Linked DNA regions of Homo sapiens: region 2 is linked to region 1. Evidence: fine-mapped expression QTL. Tissue or cell type: CD8 T cells. Region 1 holds a variant in brackets; the other region holds the start of a gene. All regions are shown on one strand. Distances are from middle to middle.

Region 1 (7,738 bases):
GACCAACTTTCATCAGACATTACACCAAATGCTATGGATACGGAATTTTCAGCATCTTCTCCAGCCAGTTTACTGGAACGGCCAACCAATCATATGGAGGCTCTTGGTCATGACCATTTAGGAACCAATGACCTCACTGTTGGTGGATTTTTAGAAAATCATGAGGAGCCAAGAGATAAAGAACAATGTGCTGAAGAGAACATACCAGCATCTTCACTCAACAAAGGAAAGAAATTGATGCATTGCAGAAGCCATGAAGAGGTCAATACTGAACTAAAAGCACAAATAATGAAAGAGATCCGAAAGCCAGGAAGAAGTATGTATAATAAGAGACGAACCTCAGATCTGATTTCTGTATGTGCTCAAAAAGCAAAAAAGAAAAAAAAAGTCAAGTAACTGTAGTAAAAGAATACATATGATTCTAGATCTGTCTTGAACAACATCTCAGTTAAGATCCTTTATTCATCTGACCAACACCAAATATCTTCTATTTCCAAGGTACTAGGTATGGTGGTAGGCAGCAGGGACTGAGAGCAGAGCAACACTGTACAGATAAATTGACAGGAACCCATAGTCTTGAATATTCTGACCAACGATGGAATTTTAATATAGCAGCTAGCTCACAAGAGATATAGTGAAAATTAAATGACTTCATGTCTGTAAAGTTCTTGTCATAGTGCCTACCACTATGTTTAGTAGTTAAACTGTGATATTATAGGATATGTTTAGGCCAAAAAACTAAAGTTATGAAAGCTCTCTGGTATATGAACACAAAAGAACTTCGTGGGAAAAAGTTCAGTATTATTGGCATTCATTTAGAGGATGTTAACAGATCACTTGCCCTGGGGTAGTAGAATGACCTGGGTGGTCCAGAAATGGGAACAAATCAGTCCTTGGAGTTCAGACGTTTATAGCCCTTGCAGAGTTTCATATGAAAACTTTAAACTGAAATAACACTCTTAACCTGTCTGGTTTTTACCCCCACTTCCCAGTTACCCCCATGTTAGCTGTTAGAATTTTAAACTGTAAGGATGGAGTTTTGTAAAGGCCACTTGTTCTTATTTTTTAGTGATACTACCATAAAGCTATTTACTCATCCTTTTAAGCTTTATGTTTGATACCTTAATAGGAACTTTTACTTACAAAGCAGGGTTTGATTAGTTGTTTTATCTTTGTTGCTGTGTACTTACTTTTACATATATGTTAAAATATAAAATCTCTAATGAGTGGTGAAATTTTTATGTAGAATGTTTTTATCTCAGTATATCTTAATATCATAAACTGCAAAAGAAGAATATTGAATAAGAATACAAATGAAAGGCACTTAATTTTTCTTTTTGTTTCTTTTGCTTTAAGAATATGAAAGAATCTTCACTTTACTGAAGCATGTGCAAGGCAGTTTACAAACAAGACTAATATTTTTACAAAATGTCATTAAAGAAGCATCAAGGTAAATAAACTATTGCATATAATGAAATGGTGATGAAATGAGTCCACAGTTTATATAGGCAGTATTTTAATAGTATCCGTTTTGCACTTGTATTGTTTATAAATGTATATGGCATACCAACATATAAATAAATTCTTATTCTTTTTTAGTTTATTGAAAGAAATTCACTTAGAAAACAGCCACACATACATTCTTCAGGAATTATGGACCTTTTCTCCCTACAAATTACTGGATACTTGGAGAATTCTTGTTATTCTTCTCTGTAGCTTTTTGATATCTTTACATTAATATTTTATAACCTTTAATTTTTCTCCTTTATACATTAATATTGGTGACTAAAAATAACGTACTTGAGTGTCATTTATTTTTACATGGGAAAACGTAATTAAGGAGACAAGAATTGGACAAATGGGCCTTATTCTGATTGTTTCAGTAGCCCAGGATCATTAGTACATTGGCCCTCTGTATCCCTGGGTTCCACATTCATTGGATTCAAGCAACCACAGATTGAAAGTATTTGGAGGCGGGGAAATGGATGGTTGTATCTGTATTGAATATGTACAGGCTTTTTTTTTCTTGTCATTTTCTAAATAATTCAGTCTAATTCATATCGTATTTACACTGTATTAGTATTATAAATAATGTAGAGATTATTTAGAGCATATGGGAGAATGTACATAGGTTACATGCAAATATTGGGCCATTTTATACAAGGGACTTGAGCATTCGTGGATTTTAGTGTTCATAGGGAGGCCTAGAATAAATCCCCCATCCATACCGAGGGATCACTGTGTAAAGAAGGTGGATAAAGGTTATAAATGGTAATTAAGAAGTGCAATTAACTGGAAAACATAGTTGTATGAGTTTAAAAACATTTTTTATTTTCCCTTCAAGATTTTGGGGATTTTAGTATTATAAGAAAACTTGGGGCTTATCACATCCCACCTTCTAAATGTAAACACACTTATACTTTGTCCCCCTGTCTCTTCTATGCTACACATGAAGATTTTAGATAAAGTTGGTTTTGTTTCTGGTTTTCTTTTCTTTTTGTACTTTTGGAGTGGCTAGAGCATAGGCCAGTTTGCAGGATCAAGATAAGGCTATAACTTTTCATGTAATTTTGAGTATTTAACCTATTATGCTCTTTATGGTAACATTCTGTCAGCTAAAACCTCATTAGGAATTTATATCCCCGGTATCTGTACTTCACTTCTGCCACCTTTTAGAGAGTTGTGTAGTATTATGGTGGCTATTTATATTAGCTTCTAAGTAGCAAGGAAGTAGGAATAAAATGTCCAGTGTCTTGGGATATTCTTAAAACCGTCAGCAGTTACGTATACAGATGCAATTTTAGTCTGTCCATATTTGTTACTGAAAATCTTTAAAAGTTGTTACTTGAACTTTAACTGCTTGCTATACTCTGTATTATAGATGTCTATCCTTGATTTGCTAGCTCTCAAATTGTAATAGAATACCATGGTTTTTAAATGCTGCTGACCAATTTTCATTTCTTCTTCCATTTTGTGGGAGATTATATTCATACTTTGTTCACATTCCTTTCAATATTCAGCTTACAAAGAGCATGAGAAGAAGCTATTGAAGTATTTGCTTGGGGAGCCCAAATTTCACTAGAGTGTTTGCAGCCCTTGAATATATTTTGAATATATTAGTTTTTTGTTTTTTTGTTTGTTTTTTCCTTTTTCTTTTCGGTTGTGGAAGGAACAACCTCTTTCCCATTGTTTAGCCCTAGAGTGTTTTAGGGACAAACTATAATACTGTACTAGGATAATAATTTGCTAATCTTTCAACATATTTTATATTGTCGTAGTATTGATTTTTCTATTTTCATTTCACTTTGAAAAATCTTCCCAAAATTTTCTCTCCTTTCTTAAAAAAATTATACTGATATATACTATTCATTAAAAAGTAATTGAGAGTACTATTTATTTTTTCATACAGGTTTAAAAAACGAATGCTAATAGAACAACTGGAGAACTTCTTGGATGAAATTCATCGAAGAGCCAATCAGATCAACCATATTAATAGCAATTAAAAGAAAATAGAATGTGGCCACTTATTTCACTATCTTCTTCAAATACAAAGTAAATACAAGACTGTTGTGATCTTGCATTCATTTTCTGACATGCATTGTTGGCTATTTGAAATACTAAAAGCAAATCTACAGATCCTTTTTCCATCATTTTACAGTGACCTTTTCTTCATTTTGGTTTATTTTTGTAATGTGAAAAGTATCACTCTAAAAAACATTTTTAATTTAACAAACTAAAAATATTCCTCCAAATCTCTTGCTTGTCATTGACTCTTGCGTGTCAATTTCCCTCAGGTTCTATTTTCTTAAACCAACCTTTAAAATTGTCACCTCTGTTAAGGTTGAACTTTGCCAAAAAAAAAA[G/AG]AAGTTACTTTGTAATTTTTGGGGAAAAAAGCACATACATTAAAACTAGGTAATGTTTTGTATATACAGTTATTTTGGATATATTATTGTAAGTTGTACAAATGTATTTTGAAGAATATTTAAGAAAAGCACTTTTGTTATTCCATCAATAAATGCTCTATTTTACTCTTGTGTGGTTTAGGAAATAATCACATTTAAAGTAATCATTTAAAAACATCCTAAGATAATGGAATTTTAAAGGCCTTGCTTTTTAGCATTGGAAAAATACACCACTTGAAGTTCATGTTTGTTAAGCCTAACTGTAATTACATGTTACATAATCTGCATTGCCTTTTTACTATATGTTCGTAGTTTTTGTTGGCCATGCCAACATACTCCCATTTCTGCCTAGATTATGGGAATGACTTTGTATGGGGCAGATAGACAGATACTTTAAAAGCTATTTAAAAAGCAAACAACTTTGGATATTATTGGTTTCCTTACTTCAACACCTTTTCCTTTATCACTAGGATTGTGGATGGCACGAAGCTGAAGCTGTTAGGGAGTGGTAGGTTTGGAGTACAGTACATGCTCTGAAATATCTAGCCTTTAGCAGCTTCATGCCATGCTTGCAAAAGCCCACAACAAATTGGAGGCCTCCTTGTTCTGCTCTGCTGTTCTCACACTTAAACTCTGTTTTATTTATAAGCTAAATGGAAAGGAAACACCTTTAAGATGACTTTGCTCATTTTGCATCCCCCCTGAGTTTCACAGGATAAGGAAAACCACGCTATTCATTCTCCACCCTCAATTCAACATGGCCTAGAGTATCCGTACTGAGGAAGCAATCTTATGGCCTGACTCACTCACCATTCATGATCACTGCTGTGCCTTTTAGTGGTTTGGGGGGTAAGCAGTAGAAAAGAAGGTCAAAATAGATTTGGATTAAGAGTAGGCAAAATAAACTTATAACATTTAAAAACTGAAGTATTTTTAGGTTTATAATATTGAAAATCACATACCCTTAGCTTTTTACACTTTATCAGACATTTTTTTAAATTTCAAGGGTATAGCAAAATGAAATTATAACTTTATGAAGAAAAGCATTGATGAAAGTGGAGAACATGCATTTAGTCTAGGGGATTTGAAACTCTCCCAATACTGAAGACAAACCCTGTCAAGAAAAAGAAGAATTTAATATTATATAGTATTTTCATATGCAGTTCTTTAAGCTTTGTTTACTTCTATACAAATACTTTTAAGTAATGCAAGATAACATTTAATAGATGGAATTGTTAAGGTAATTGCCTGTAGTCACATTGCTAAATTCATTGAGAGTTACACAAAATCCAGAATATATTGTCTGTTCCTAAATTATATATATTTAGATTCTGGAATTACTAGGAGGAATTAGAAGTCATTCAGATAAAAATTCATACTTAACAAGAGTATCTAGGAAAGAGATTCAGCCCATCCCAATATTGAGCAGCTTTCCTTATCAGAAAGTTTTATTTTCTGTTTCACAGATTGCTCATGACCTTTAATACATTTTTCTGAATGAACCCTGGAGGGAGGTGAGAAGTAGCAGTTTTGTTCATCTCTTCTTTTTGTCCTTTATCTCTCTGCCACTGTTCTCACCTCATCCTAAAACCTGGTCAGGAGGGTTTGAAACCTATCAGAACTAAAGGTTAATATCTCATCTCCCTCAGGCTTTTTTCATTTAAAAAAAAAATGGGTATATTAGTTAAATTAGAATACTTGTTGTAGAATTATTGTCAAAGGGGAAGGGAAATACATCTAGGGGAAACATCATGTCTTTTAGGCCCTTTATGTCACTGAATGACTTAAGGCTCGACAAATGATATTCTTGGAAAGTTTAATCTTGAGGTTTTCAAATCTTTTTTTTTAATGTCTCCCATGTTTCTCATTTGCTGATTGATTCATTAGTTGCTCTTAGTAAGATTTGTCAGTTGGAAATAATGAAGGCTGAGACTCATTTCTAAACTCTTCCATAACCATCACCAGAAGAGCAGCCACTGTGTTGTGTGATGTAGGCTAATGCCTCCCAGATAGAGGTAAAGTCACAAGGACTATTAGAATTCCAGTGGATTGTGGAACTGGTTTTGGATTATCCTTATATTTTCATTCTGATTACTGAGGCAGTTCTGAAAACTCCTACCATTGAAATAGTGGTGTGTCTTTTCCTTGTTTAAGGATTTTACATCATTTTTATGCACTTGAATTCCAAAATCAGAATCTCTCTTTTACCTATCAACCTTTATTGGCTATTGGCTTTTGGCAATGACCTTTCTGTTCAAATGTAGTCCTGTCTCTTTGTTTCCTTAGGGAGTAGAACCTGTCCTTTTTCTCATCTTTCATTTTTTTGACGTGTCCTTTCTAAGAGAAGGCTCTCTGCCGCCTGTTCTGGGTGATAAGTGATATTTTCATCTAATCGTTATGTGGTTGGGATGATCATGGTGAAATACTAGGAAGACATACTCTGTTGATGGACTTTTTCTCTCCAAATAATCCCAAATAGATTATTTTCTAGTGAATGGTTTATATCTTTCTCGTCACAAAAATGTTCCTTTGATTTCTAGCACAAGGTACAGCAGGATGCAAATGATTCTCAGATAAAATGATGTTGACAGTATTTCCTTAACAATTTATGTAAAACTATGCATAATTTTCATTCTAACTTTTGACATTTTTCTCCATAAATAAAAGTAATGCCTGATGTTTAGTTAAAGTAGATCCACCTTTGCTTGATTTTATTAGTCTTGTTCTATCCTATTTCTTTTTAATACACTGTTTAGACTTGCCAACAACTCTTAACTGAGAATCTCTTTTCCTTCCTAGGCTAAGTAATTGTGAGTGGGGGAGGAAGAACATTAAGAGAAATAATCTAAAGACTTTGTTCAATATTGTCGAAGCCTAAGAATATTTGTGTGTCCTTCTGATGTACTGAGGCTTTGCCGGTACCACACCATCTTTGGATTACCATAAGGTTATGTAGTAGGACTTAAAAGTACTAGGGCAAACATTTGATTTTTGAGAAAGATCAACAGAACAGTATAGAAATCCAGGTGCATTCATTAGAATACTAGGATCACAAGAGGACTACTCTGGTGTACTCTAGTGACCTGAAAAAACTCTAAAATGATAAGAAAGCTAGGGGACAAAGGGAAAAAAGGGCAAGATTTATAATTTATTTTACTTTCATGATTTTTCCAAGTGTCTTCAGAAGTAGAAACCTATAGCATTAAAAAAAAAAATCTACATTAACTATATATGAGCTGAGAGAATGAGAAGGTAAAAAACATGGAGGATAAGTTTCCTTTGTACTTACGAAATAGTCCCCTTTCTTAGGATAGAAGATAGCAACTGGGTAGCTTCTGAAGCACCATAAAAACAGCTAGAAAGAATGCTTATTTTTGAGGGGATAGTGGACAAATGAGCCCTTGTTGCTAGAGAGACACTGATAAATTATCTGAATCCTGTCAAAAAATACTGTAATACCTGTGTTAGGTTCTCTCAGGAAATAGATGAATGGCCGATCTGCTTTAAAAATAGGAATCCGAGACCTTTTCAATAACAACAGAGCTGCAGGAAAGAAAGAAAAATTCCATTGCATTTTCTGTGCATTTTTAAGAAAATAACTATTGGTTATGAAGTAAGTTAATTTTTTAAGAAATCAAAGCATCCTAATGGCATTTGATTGTTTACTGTTGTGATGGGGGTGCAGATGGGAAAATTAAAGAGAAAAGATGCCATTTAGCCAATCCTGTCTCCTGTTTTCAACACATTCCATGGAATAAATTCCTTATTGAAGGTAACTTTCAGAATTATTTTTATGGGATGGATATCTCTTCTTCCCCGTCATTTTTCAAAAACTT
Region 2 (7,738 bases), 88 kb before region 1:
GTGGCTGCTGCCCTGACGCTGGCTATAATCGGGGAGGCACGGCTACAGCCGCGGCGGTGCTCTATGGAGCCAGCAAGAGCTGGGAACAGGCAGAAGCCCTGCCCGCTTCCAAGTTGGAAGAGTGGGAGTCCTGCCCTCCTGAGTGCAGCTGCAGCCACCCAGTCATGGTTGTGGACCCATTCATCTCCGGACAAGTGGAGGGTAAGCAAGGCAAAGAGGTGCTTTGCTGAGCGACAGAACAGCTCAGAGGAGACCTGAGGGCAATGGGTAGCTTCTTTCTGCAGGCAAGTCATCCCAATAAGTGTCCAGCTCTTAGCAGAGAGGAGACCCACAGTGGGTAGTTCCTCTCAGCAGGCAAGTCATCCCGTCATCTTCTCAGCTCTCCACAGAGAGAAGACCCACTCTCAGGGGACCAGGAAGCTCCCTGCTCCCGCAGGCTTGGAAGTGCCTGCTCCCACTGCCTGGCCTCTCCCCGCTCCCAGCACCCGCTCTGATTTCAGAGCAAAGTTGTGACTAAGCCTGGGTGCTGTCACGACCCGACCAGGTGTGCACGTGCTTGGGGCAGCATTGACACGCAAGCCCCATGCTGCCTCAGTCCCCTCTGGACTTTGGGTGCTGATGAGCACAGGAGGGAGGCAGGCCGAGGCGGGAATAAGGACATCTCAGTGAAGGCCTGTAGGTACCACTTAGCATGAACAACCTGGGCGCCATGGGCACTGTGGATGGCAGGTTAATGGCAGCAGGATCCACACAGGCTCCTGGGCGGAAAGGGGTGGGTCCCCGGTAACGCCAGGGGTCAGGCTGCCAGTTCCATGCAACGGAGTGAGAACTTATGGTGCTTTCTCCAGGCCTGCCCATGGCTGCGCCATGGACCAATCAGCACACACTTCTTCCTCTCAGAAGCCCATAAAAACCCTGGAGTGAACCAGACTTGGGCAGACAATGAGATGACCTGCTTGCAGACAGGAGCTACCCACTGTGGGTCTATGGACACTGTGGGTCTCCTCTGTGGAGAGCTGAGCAGATGACAGGACCACCTGCCTGCTGAGAGGAACTACCCATTGTGGGTCTCCTCTCTGCTGAGAGCTGGACACTTATTGGGATGACCTGCCTGCAGAAAGAAGCTACTCATTGCCCTCAGGTCTCCTCTGAGCTGTTCTGTCACTCAACAAAGCACCTCTTTGCCTTGCTCACCCTCCACTTGTCCACATACCTCATTCTTCCTGGATGTGGGACAATAACTCGGGACCTGCCAAATGGCATGGCTGAAAGAGCTGTAACACAAACGGGCTGAAATATGCCCCTTGCTTGCCATGTTGTGGGCAACACAACAAGAGAAGAGAGAAGAAGAGAAGAAGAAAGGAAAGAGAAGGGGGAAGAGAGGAGAGAAGAGCTGTGGCCCTTTAGGAAGCCTAGACCTAGGAGCTCCCTGTGACAACCTCTTTGGGGCTCTGCAGCTCCTGGCATCTCCAAGCTTCCAGGTGCCACTGCATTCCCTGGTGCCAGCTGTGGAAGCTGCTTGCAGTACACCTGGACCAGCCACAGCCTTGCAAGGGGCCAGCCCCTAGAGCTGCCCGCCCTCCTGCAGCTGGCATGCCGGGCTGTATACAGTGGCCGGACCCCATGCTTGCTCGCTCACACACCCCTCGCTGCTCCGCACCTGGCTTGCACTTGGCAGGTGTGGGATCCAGGCCGTAGTATGAGCAGAGTGCAGCCTGCTGGGACTGGTGGGCAGAATGAGCCCGACCAAAATTCGGGCAGAGGTGCCATTTTTCCAGCTGGAAAAGTGACACTCCAAGGATCCTGTGACAATGGCTCCACTGAAAAATGATTTCGAATAACTGTAATAATAGGTAAGGTCATTGTGAACGCATGTTAATCTTCAGTAGTCTAGTTTGATTTCTTTCAAACATTGCTTCTACTTAGCAACGCAATTGAAAAATAAATCTCCAATTTATAGGGGAAAAAAAACCTCCATAGATTGGAATAAAGGCCCTCTACTGTCTAGATCTCACCTGTGTTTCTAGATCTTGTACTATTCTACATGCACCTGTTGCTCCAACCTAGCTGAACTTCACTGTTCCTCAGGAAGCCCTCAGCAATGCTGTCTTAACTTCCTTTCTTCACATTTTCAATGTCGGGAAGATCTTTTCACTAGCAGCTTCCCCTTCCTTTACCCATATCCAAATCCTACCAGTCCTTTAAGACAGTGTTTCTTAAAACTGAATAATGAACAGACTCCTAAAATAAATTCTTATGATCCTAGAGAATGTTTTCAGTAGGCTGGGGTCCACAGACCAGTTTGAAAAGCACAAATATAAAGAACTAAAGAGCAATTGTATAAAATTATGCAAATGATCAAGTTGAAAGACAAATTTCATCTTTATAACTGGTAAAATAACTCGTATTTTGCCATAGAACTCTGATTCTTATCTTCAGATCTATGATCCGTTTAAGAAACACTAAGGCAAAGCTGAAACCTTGGAAAATGTTCCTGCATCACCCCAAGGTAATACATTTTTATTTTTTCTGATTTGGTGTCTAACAACTTTCTGCCTTGGAGTAGCTAGTAATATGTAGCATTTTCCTAGAAAACATAAGCTCTTTGAAGACAGGGACCACATTTTATTTATTTTTTATATGCACCACACCTAATACACAGTACATCCTCAGCAAGTACTGGCTGTAAAGCCTATATTCCATGCTCTTATTTTGTAGTCCAAATCACTTTAAAAATCACACTTCTTCTATTGTTCATACTCATAGAAGAGCATATTACTCAAATAGCTCTGCTATAAATTAACAGTAAGTTTCAGAAGTTATACCAAGTCACGAGACTCAGATTTTTAAAAAGTGCCACAAAGTGTCTCTTCTGTGTCAATGTTAATAGAACCCTTTCTTTAAATGATCAGTAGGCAAATTAAGAATTTCCGGATAAAGAACAAACTCTGGAAAAACAAAGCTAGTGGGAGAGGCCCTGTAAATACCTACCTAGTCTTACAAGGGCTGTCTCTAACTCAGCTTGTATTTTAGGCAGCGTCTTCAGTTTTTCAACTAATGTGTTTGAGAAAACTGTTTTCCTCGGACATGCAGGCGTGGACTCCTTACTTCAGGTAAGGTGACAGCAGCTTGACAGAGAGTGCCTTCCCTCCCACGGCATTTGGGACGAGGCTGAAGGAAAGACACAGGCGGGGTTACGGGAAACCCATTCTCTGCGCCATCTGGGCAAGCTGAAGTCAGTTTTTCCGCTTTCTCACGAGGTAATGGATTATCATGGGCTCAGGTCCCCTTCAGCTCTGAAACAGGTATTCTATGGCTCTAAGTAAACACGGCAAGAGACAGGTTATTTCTTTGGTAAGATCAGTTGTATTTCCCAGAGAATAAAACGGGCAACAAACCATTTATCGATATGTGAGTCTTCCCCCTAGGCCCTAGCTATTTGGGGTTGGATAAAGAAAAAGAGGGTTTGCTTCCTTTTTGGCGGGTCCTCCAATGACAGGGCTCCTGGCCCGCTGCGGGTCCAACTCCCACCTCTCGTGGCTCCCCCGAGGCCGAGCGAGGCTCCGTGCGAGGACAGCCCCTCAACCGCACTCCCCAGAGGGAGCGCTGGGACTCGCGGAGGAGATTAGTCCCCGGTCATAAACAACCTCTCACTTCCCCTCCCCCGCCCGCGCCCGCTCGCGCCGGGGCGGCGCGCCGGGGCGGCCCTCCGAGGCCCAGGAACCTCCTCCGGCGCCCGCGAGGCCCCGAGTCCTCCTCCGGAGGGCGGCTGCGGGCCTGCCCTCTTCTCCTAACCAGGTGTTTGTCCACTTTACTCAACCCTTCTTACTCGTCCACGCTACGGCCACCTCACAGGGGCGGCTGACGCCAGCCCCTTTTTCCCTCCCCTCGACCCCTATCACCTCCAACAGCCAAGGAGAGGCCGGCGGCCCTGACGCGCAGGCTCACCGCCGCGGCCGCCCCGCGCGCGCGGACGCGGCCCCCGCCCCCACCTCGCGGTCCTTCCGCAGTCCGGCCCCGCCCCTTCCCGAAGCCCGCCTCCGGGTCGGCCCGCCCGCCCGCTCGCGCGCACCCGACGCCCCGCCTCTGCGCGTGCTCAATAACTGTCCCCGGAGCCGGCCTACAAGCTTCCCCCGCCCCTGAGCTGTTTAAATATGCTAATGAAAGGATAGGGCCTGACCAGTAGAACGGCGAGGCGGTGTATCACGTGGCTCGGGGACGTGTCAGGGGCGGAGCCTCCGCAGCCCCTGCCCGAGTTAAAACCGGAGTGTGAGAGAGAAAAGCGCTTCAGTAGCGAGAGGGGCTGAGAAAGTGGTGACACCGCCGGGGTGCGGAGGGAGTCCCTGAAACTTCTCCCAACAGCCCCAGGGCCAATCTTCCCTCAGCCCACTCCCCTCTTCGCCAGCTCCCAGGTCCCCACTCCTGTACCGGGGGTGGGGTGGGGAGCCAGGCCCGTCTCCCGCTGGGACACACACAGGGGCCGGGAGCGGGGACGGGACCCCCGAGGCGGGGGGGACGAACCGACAGACAGACGGCTGGGCGCCCGCCCCAGCGGGCAGGCAGGCAGGAGGAGGCGGAGGCGGGGGTACGACGGGGAGCACTGGGTCTGGGGAGTTTCCTCTCAACTATCGGGGGAGAAACTCCCCGCAGCCGGAGGAAAGACCCAGACAGTGTTTTCCTCCCGGGGGCCGTGCTCCCCCGCCCCGCGTAGCGGCGGTCGCCGCCACCGGCGCCTCCACCTCTACCATCTCCTCTTTCTCCACCACCTCGGGCCCCGGTGTCCCCGGCCAGCACTATGCCCATCTTACTGTTCCTGATAGACACGTCTGCCTCTATGAACCAGCGCAGCCATCTGGGCACCACCTACCTGGACACGGCCAAAGGCGCGGTAGAGACCTTCATGAAGGTACCGACTGACCGAGCCCGGGCGGCGACCCCGGCCCGGCGGCCCGCGGGCGGCAGGGTGGGGGAGGGCGGCCGGGGCGGGGGTGTCGGGGACCTGACTGCGGGAGCTGCCGGGCTCGGGGACCCCCTCCCCCACCGCGCGGGCGGGCGGGCGCTGCGAGCCGGGTTCGGCCGGGGCCCGGGCTCCGGCCCCGGGCGGTGTGTGGGGAGCGATCTGTGTGTGGGGGACGGCGTGGAGGGGTGGCCGCTGCGTGTGCGGTACTGTGGGGGCGGCGGGGCCGCTGGGCGCCCCTTCTCCGCCTCGTAACCTCGCCTCTGTGCTTCCCTGTCGCCCGCCCTGTTCCTCCTCCCGTCCCGCAGCTCCGTGCCCGGGACCCTGCCAGCAGAGGAGACAGGTATATGCTGGTCACTTTCGAAGAGCCGCCCTATGCTATCAAGGTAACAGCCCTCGCCCTCCCCCTTTCCTCCCTTCCCTTCCCTGTTCCTTCCTCGCTCGCCCTCCCCGCCCCCCCATTCACCCTTCATTATGCTCCCCTCCCCCACCCGCTGCGCTCCCAGCCGCTGAGGTCTCTTCCCTGCGGGCTCCCACCCCCTCCCCCGCTCGGCAGCGTCCTAGCGCGGCGCGGAGTCGCGGGGCCACCGCCGTCCCCTCCCGGCCCGGCCCGGCAGCGGCGGCGGCGGCGGCGGCGGCGGCGCTGCTATCAACATGGCCGACATTTCCCCTCCGCGGCGTGAGCGGCAGCAATGAACTGTGGGGGATATTTATTCAAGTTAGCCGGAGTGACAGCCGGGCCCGGCCGCGCACAGCCCCGGTTTGCATTAAAGGGGAATCGGCCCGGCCGGCCCGGAAGCCAGATGCGGGGCTGCCAGGATTGGTCTTGTCAGATTCGTCCTAAGAGGGCCGGTGGGACAGCTGCAGGTTAACTTCCTAAGTCCGGCTCCCATCTGCTTCCACTAGTACCTTCACATACCCAAATTTTGGGTATTAGATTAGGTAGTAAATTTGTCAGTGAAGTTATAAAGTATTAAGGCAGTTAACTACCAAAACCTAGAGAGGAAGCTGGGTTATTCCTGGGCCACCTTTGGAAGAGAGTTTCCTCAGCAGCGGTACAGTATTAACACGTTAACCAAGCCAAACCAACCAAAAGTGAAGCTGCTACTTGGTGAACGTCAGATTATAACGGCTCTGTGTACATGGCTTTAAAAAATGAAAAAAAAAAATCTTACATTTTTCTTTTCAGGCTGGATGGAAAGAAAACCATGCAACGTTTATGAATGAATTGAAAAACCTTCAGGCTGAAGGACTTACGACTCTTGGCCAATCCCTAAGGACAGCTTTTGATTTATTAAATTTAAATAGATTAGTAACTGGCATAGACAACTATGGGCAGGTAGGTTGAATAATAAGGTGGCAAAATAGTTGATTTTTCATTTTGTGGAAAAACACAGTCCAGTCCAAAAACTACATAACATGAAATGCAAGTATAAAACATTCCAAATTAAAATAGAATATGCACATTGTTCAAAGGCAAAACTCTTACCCTACTATATATATTTTACATCCCTCATTTTTTCCCCCTCTAAAATGCATTGGTATTCAGGATTAGAATCTGAAACTTTTGCTATAAAGTTGACATACATTGGTTTTAATCCCTTGAAAGTTCAGTAAAGACCTAAAAGGAAAAGCATCCTACCACACCACACTCATGTTGTATGTGCAACTATTATAGTGGCTTAGAGACACTAGTTCGTGTTCTTCGTTTCTATATTAGTAAAGATGTTAGAGGAAATTAATCTGTTTGTTGCATCAGGGTTTAATGTGACCATGTTGTATAACTATTCTGAAAGGTAAGAAGTTTTTCACTGGAGTACAGTCACTGGCTGAGAACATTTAAGTTTTCTTTTGAAGCATACACAGTTAACAACTATTGCAGGAAGAACTCTGAATTAAATTTCAGGCCCAGAGTTTTGATTTAAACTCCAAACCCTTGGAAAAAAAGACTGCTGGAAAATATGAAAGAACCCTTCGTTTCTTAACCCCCACAAGTCCTTTTATTGCACTTACTTTCATGTATTTGAGGATGAGAGGAGCTTTAAATCAACAATAATTCACTAAGGAATAATGCAAGGTGGTCTATTGTAACATTTTATGATATTATTGCCCTGGAAATAAAAGATACTGAACAATGTATAATGTTACATGTAACAAAGGAATATTATTTCCAAGGAGCTCAGTTCTTATGTTGTAGTGAAAAGCACTATTCCTAATTATATATTGGGTATATGTTGTATTTTCCCAAGTCCCACAGTCCCTAGTTTTGTGAGTTTCGTACATTTCAGGGAAATTCTTTCTGTGACTACAACTTTTATTTGCTTCCTATTGAAGGAAATTGACTTGTTTCTGTTTTAGGAAATTTTAAGCTTCTTAGGGATAACTTCAGTGCTTAAGTGTCTTTGGAAATAACTGAATTTAGTTCTATAACATTTAAAATGTACACTGAAATTCAGAGTGAGCTTACCAAATTGAACTTCCAACGTTTAGTTAGGTAAATATGTACTTTCTTACCACATTAATACTTTTATGTTTTTCCCATCTCTGCTGCTTTTATTTTGCAACTTTTAATAATTTAGGTAGATTTGCAATGAACTTTTTGGTTTGTTTCTGTAAAATAGTAGTGGATTTCCTTCTCTTTTATATTCCTTTGTGATATGTAGTGCAACACAGTCTTACTGCTTAAGGTTTTCATCCTTACCTCTTTGAGTTCAAAGAGATATTTAAAACTTGCCATTATTTGGTTACCTTTATTTGGTTGTCATGTTGTTAGTGTATGGC

Which allele goes with the higher level. Alleles are on the strand shown, and positions count from the first base shown. SD is a standard deviation of normalised expression in the study named.
With allele G in place of AG in region 1, the expression in CD8 T cells of the gene that starts at base 4,285 in region 2 is lower (moderate effect, 0.70 SD a copy in CEDAR).

What was found. PIP is the estimated chance that this variant, and not a neighbour inherited with it, causes the effect.
Region 2: INTS6 starts here. The variant in region 1 is fine-mapped to the expression of INTS6 in CD8 T cells (CEDAR, PIP 0.95).

The regions. Positions count from the first base shown.
Region 1 is chr13:51,361,517-51,369,254 of GRCh38, reverse strand. SERPINE3 (serpin family E member 3) reads right to left here. Exons shown (of 10, transcript NM_001386375.1): 9 at 7,362-7,445; 10 at 4,520-5,016. The coding sequence ends at 4,973. INTS6 (integrator complex subunit 6) reads left to right here. Exons shown (of 18, transcript NM_012141.3): 16 at 1-316; 17 at 1,357-1,450; 18 at 3,410-7,678. The coding sequence ends at 3,503. Among named protein-coding and RNA genes, the nearest start is that of MIR5693, 17 kb to the right of the region's middle. The variant G/AG (reference allele first, on the strand shown) is at 3,864.
Region 2 is chr13:51,449,583-51,457,320 of GRCh38, reverse strand. INTS6 (integrator complex subunit 6) reads left to right here and starts at 4,285. Exons shown (of 18, transcript NM_012141.3): 1 at 4,285-4,906; 2 at 5,266-5,343; 3 at 6,147-6,296. The coding sequence starts at 4,796. INTS6-AS1 (INTS6 antisense RNA 1) reads right to left here and starts at 3,976. Exons shown (of 2, transcript NR_103812.1): 1 at 3,903-3,976; 2 at 2,605-3,318. RefSeq lists silencers at 3,520-3,839, 3,930-4,129, 4,360-4,619, 4,860-5,129, 5,140-5,259 and 3 more and an enhancer at 4,250-4,299.